Linked DNA regions of Homo sapiens: region 2 is linked to region 1. Evidence: fine-mapped expression QTL. Tissue or cell type: follicular helper T cells. Region 1 holds a variant in brackets; the other region holds the start of a gene. All regions are shown on one strand. Distances are between the middles of the regions.

Region 1 (2,680 bases):
GTGAAGAGGGAAGGTAGGAAGATTGAAAGAAGAGAAGGTGGAAGGCCCACACAAGGAACAGTGGGGGCCCAGCTGCACAAATCAAAACTGTGTGGCACTGTTAGGGCCACTCTGGGGCAGCTTGCAGTCCAGGGCTCCCGCACCTGACTCTTGCCCTCAGAGCATCTGTAAAAGAATCACAGTCCAAATCCCATTGCCAGGCCCTCTTTATAGTCGGACAGCCTTGTTTCTCAGCAGGAAGCCTTACCTGTTCTGAAGTCCCTCACCCTTGTGGGGCCTCTGCTCTTTCCTTGTGCAGCATCAACATCACCAACATTCAGCTGGACTGTGGTGGGATCCAGATATCATTCCATAAGGAGTGGTTCTCGGCAAATATCTCACTTGAATTTGACCTTGAATTGAGACCGTGAGTCATACAGAAGCAGAATCTGAGAGGTGCTGGCCCTCCTCGCAGGGAACCTGGGAAATTCAGATCTTTCTGATCCCAACCTAAATTCAAATCCTGGCTTCCAAAGCCACTTGCTGTGTGACCTTGGGCAAGTCACTTCACCTCTCTGAGCCTTGGTTTCTTCACCTGAAATATGATGACAATCATTAGTCAGTGGAAGGAAGTCATTTGCTCATTCAAACCTATGAGAGTTCACAACAACTGGGCTTGATTAAAGAGAGAAAGGGAGAACTGCTGTAATCATCTCATCGCCCCTGCTCACCATCCTCCTGTTCAAACTATCCTTTGACATCCACTGCCCCCAAGAAAGGGAGGATGCAGCTAAATGGGAAAGATTTTTGAAACAGAGATTAACTCTCAACGTTTGAATTTCCAAAGGCCTATTTAAGGGGTTTTCAGAGTCACTCTGGCTACAGCTGTTTTCTCTTTAATCACTGACTTCAGGATTTAACTGGGCCTAGTTTGTTGAAAGGACTCAGAGTGCCAGGGGAAGCCCTAACGGTGGACAGTGCCCGTCTTTGCCAATACGGAGATTTCTACTCTTTCTCTACCTCCTCCCCTTGCCCTTCCTCCTCTTCCTCTCTCATCTGCAGGTCCTTCGATAACAACATC[G/A]TAAAGATGTGTGCACATATGAGCATCGTTGTGGAGTTCTGGCTGGAGAAAGACGAGTTTGGCCGGAGGGATCTGGTGATAGGCAAATGCGATGCAGAGCCCAGCAGTGTCCATGTGGCCATCCTCACTGAGTAAGACCCCAGCTGCCCCTCCCCAGAGCTGGGCCTCCTTCCTGATGAGCCCCAGCTGCAGGGTCACTTCCTGACCGTCTCCTAAATTAGTCCAAAGCAGATCTCATCCTTCCCCCGGGATCTGCTCCTCCTCCCATGTTCCCATCCGTGATGACCCTACCACCCTCCCAGAAGCCAGACTCTTCTCCCTCCTCACTCCTCAAGCCCATCATCACAAGTTCCCATCAATGACTTGCTAGTAGCCCTCAGCTTCTCTCTTTTATCTCCATCTCCTACTCCACTACCTGGAGCACTACAGGAAACTCACCTGGCTTTCCCTGGCCCGGATCTCCCCTCCTACACTCCATTCCTCATCCTGCAGCAGAAATAACTTTCTAACACAGAAATCTGGCCATGCCCAAGCCCCTGCTCCAAAGCCTCCAGTGGTTCCCAGTGCCCTCTGGGTAAACAGCAACTCCCAAATTTCACTCAAGGCCCTGCTTGTCCTCTCCCCTGCCAACTTTTCAGCCCTTTGTCCTCCACCACACACCGTACATTTTCACACCACTGTGCCTTTGCACATGCTGATCTTCTTGCCTGGAATGCCCGTCCCATCTTCTATGAAGCTCCTCCTTATCACTCATTCATTCATATATTTCCCAAAAACCTACTGTATGCCAGCACCACACCTGATGCTAGGGATACAGTGGTGAACAAGACACAAAATACAGCTTTAATAAAGCTCCATAGACTGGCTGACCAAGTCTTTCAATTTCAACTGACTGTAAGTCCCTTGAAGGCAAGACTTGTGCCTGATTTATCTCTGTAATTCCGGAATGCTGAAAGCAATGAAGACCTCAGTGGATGTCTGTTCATTTATTCATCAGATATTCATTGAGTACCTAGATTGTACCAGACATTCATGGGAGGACGGTGTAAGGGAAAGACTCTGGAATCTGGTGCTCTATTGCCATGTTTCTAATATAACCAGCACTTATTAGCTGTGTGACCTTGGGCAAGGTCTGAGCTACCCCTTTGATGATCACTGACAATGATACTTCTGGCATGGGGCTGAGTGAGGACTAAAAGACTGTGGAAAGTATACTCAACACATACCTCCTGGCTTTAATATTGCCTGGATTGCTCTGTTCTGTTCTGTGCCTCTACCTTTCTTTCTAGGGCTATCCCACCAAAGATGAATCAGTTTCTCTACAACCTCAAAGAGAATCTGCAAAAAGTTCTCCCACACATGGTAGAAAGTCAGGTAAGTTTAGAAAAAACTTTGCATCTTGAGCATCCTTGAGTCCGAGGGTTAGGGCATATATCCACTGGCAATTTAGCAAAGGATTTCAAACATTGGATTTTAGAGCTTGAAAAATCTCAATTTAAAATTTCAGTTTGGCCATGAGTTTTGCCAGCCTATCCTTGAGCAAGAGACTTTGCCTCCCTGAGCCTCAGTGTTCCCACCTGTAGCATGGGATCCACCATAGTCTCTATCTTATATGATGAG
Region 2 (2,680 bases), 950 kb before region 1:
AAATAACGTTTTTGAGAGGAAGTAGCAATATCTGCCACAACAGGCAAAAAGTAGTTGTAGGCAGATGAAGAAGACCATCTCAGGTATTCATTTATTCAAGGAGCAAAACATATTTGTTCAGCAACTACTATTGACTAAGCTTGGTTCCAGGCATGGTGGATACAAGAGTGAACAAATAAAAGACTGCTCTTATGCAGTTTCTATTTAGTGGGGAACAGCAGGTGTAAGTTCCATGGGGGTTGGAACCTGCCCTTCTAGGCCAGTGTGGTTGGAATAGAGTTTTAACGAATTTTGCAGGAAGTAATAAGGACTTCATATTTGATTCTAAGAGCAATGAGACTCCATTAAATCGAGTATTAATCAGAAAGTGGCATGATCTGTTTTATTTATTTATTTATTTATTTATTTATTTTAATCTTTATATCTGAGACGGAGTTTCGCTGTTGTCGCCCAGGCTGGAGTGCAGTGGTGCCATCTCTCTCACTGCAACCCCTGCCTCCCGGGTTCAAGCGATTCTCCTGCCTCAGCCTCCCGAGTAGCTGGGACTACAGGCATGCGCCACCACGCCCGGCTAATTTTTTGTATTTTTATTAGAGACGGGGTTTCGCCATGTTGGCCAAGCTGGTCTCGAACTCCTGACCTCAGGTGATTCACCTGCCTCAGCCTCCCAAAGTGCTGGGATTACAGCGGGAGCCACCGCACCTGGCCGCATGATCTGTTTTAAATAATTACTCTGGCCACCTTATGGAAAATGGATTGTTCGGACAGAGCTGGACAAAAGAATGGAAACAGACCAGATATTTCAGGCAGGCTAGAGATGAGCGTGGCCTGGCCTTGCCTGGGGCGGTTGTGACTGACTGGATTGGGTGAAGGACAGGAAAGCTACAACAAGGGTGCCTATAGGTGTTCGTATTGAGTCACTGGGGGCACCCTAAATGGGAGTTACCTCAGTAGCAGTTTGAGACACCAGTCAGATAATGGATGTGAAAGCTTTTAGAAAGGTTGAACGGCGGCTGAAATCGCGTGTGTTCCATTTACAGATGGGAAACTGAGGCACGAGATACCAGAGGATGGAGTCAGGCCACGTTGTGCGCCACTCTCCCCGCTTAGGTGGGTGAGGAGACCGAGGTGTGTTGGGCCCCCGCTAAACACCAGCACCGACCTGAGCCCCGCCCAGACCCCTCCAGCCGGCTTTCCCTGTCCTCTGCTCGTGTGCCAATAAAGTTATTGAAATTGACACCGGTTGCTAAGGAAGTGGGTCGCCGAGCCAGGTTGCTAAGGAAGTGAGCGGCCACTGTCTCTCCCCATCCGGGGCAGCGGGGAATGGCTGAGCCAGGGGTTCGCCGCCCCCGCCGCCGCCGCCGCCGCCGCCGCCGCCGCCGCCGCCCGCTTTCGGCTCGGGCCTCAGGTGAGTCGGAGGGGCCGGGCGCCCACCGAGCAGGGCTAATCCTGTGGCCGCCTGGGGTTTTCCCTGCGACCTGCGCCCGCGCCTCTGCCTGGCTTTGCTGTCCCGCGAGCCGGAGCATCCTCTGCCCTGCCTCCTAGGCATCCTTTGGTAGTCCGGACGGCCTTGCCCCTCCTTCCCCTGGCAGGGTCGCGGCCCGACCCCCAGACACGGCCACCTTGGGTCGCAGCCCACCTGGGGGCCCTGAGGCGGTGGTCAGGGCCCCAGTTTGGGAGGAGGGCGGGGAAGCGAGAGCCTGGGGTCCGAACCTCGGCGCTGTGCTGGGCTTGCTGTGTGACCTTGGGCAAGTCTTTTCACCTCCCTGGCCTTAGCTGACCTGTTTATTCAATGGGGTCCTAACATTGCTGCTCAGAGTGGTAAAGATAATGAGAAGTGTATGTGAAAGTGCCCTAAATGGGGAGAGGGAGAATTCTTAGGGCACCCTAGATGGGAGACCAAGAGGGCAGTTTGAAGTCTGAGCGAGTTAGAGACGTGGCATTTCCACTTAGTAACTGTGTGGCCCTGGGCAAGTTAATTTCTCTGAGTCTTCTTTTCCTTATCTGTGAAATGAGGTAATAGACTACTGTGGAAATCAGTGAGACTGGGTATGTCAAGTAGCTTGGCACATAGTAAGTGCTCAACCAGCTATTATGAGGCGTCCAGGGTAGGAGGGCAAGACTTCCAGGAGGAGATGACTTTGGGACAGGTAAGGTGTAGGTGTGTAGAGTGCCAGCTCATATGGGTAGTCCTACTGCAATGCCAACCCCCAACCCCGGTTTTACTTCTCCATTCTGCTCAGAGCAAGGGAGGTACTTCTACAAGTAGTCCTGGGAAACTCTTTGAGGTCAACCCCTTGTAGATAGCTGGGGTCATGGTCTCATTTTCTACCTGGGCTTCGTTGACCCTTCCAGAAGAAAAAAGGCATCTTTGTGTCCTTTGGGAAGTGCTTAAAGCAGTAATAACTATTTACAAGCATATGATTAAGAAGCACTTTACCAGGCATATTATTTCATTTAATCTTTATGTAGACTTTGCCAGGTGCCTGGTGATGTCATCCTCATTTTGCCGATGAGGAAACTGAGGTTCAGAAAAGTAAAGGGAAGGACCTGCTTAAGAATCCTTTTTTTTTTTTTTTTTTTTGAGACAGAGTCTTAGTCTGTTGCCCAGGCTGGAGTGCAGTGGCGCGATCTCAGCTCACTGCAACCTCCGCCTCGTGTGTTCAAGCGATTCTCCTGC

Direction of the effects. Positions count from the first base shown, and alleles are read on the strand shown. Sizes are in standard deviations (SD) of each study's normalised expression.
As copies of A replace G in region 1, the expression in follicular helper T cells of the gene that starts at base 1,294 in region 2 goes up (moderate effect, 0.52 SD a copy in Schmiedel 2018).

Evidence for each region. PIP is the estimated chance that this variant, and not a neighbour inherited with it, causes the effect.
Region 2: it holds the start of KIF3B, and the variant in region 1 is fine-mapped to the expression of KIF3B in follicular helper T cells (Schmiedel 2018, PIP 0.95).

What each region holds. Positions count from the first base shown.
Region 1 is chr20:33,224,057-33,226,736 of GRCh38, forward strand. It overlaps BPIFA3 (BPI fold containing family A member 3), which reads left to right. Exons shown (of 7, transcript NM_178466.5): 3 at 299-406; 4 at 1,042-1,191; 5 at 2,350-2,434. Among named protein-coding and RNA genes, the nearest start is that of BPIFA3, 8.0 kb to the left of the region's middle. RefSeq lists an enhancer at 1-899. The variant G/A (reference allele first, on the strand shown) is at 1,061.
Region 2 is chr20:32,276,358-32,279,037 of GRCh38, forward strand. KIF3B (kinesin family member 3B) reads left to right here and starts at 1,294. Exons shown (of 9, transcript NM_004798.4): 1 at 1,294-1,408. It overlaps LOC124904885 (a long non-coding RNA gene), which reads right to left and starts at 1,186. Exons shown (of 2, transcript XR_007067561.1): 1 at 947-1,186. RefSeq lists enhancers at 1,050-1,099, 1,146-1,656 and silencers at 1,310-1,469, 1,490-1,669.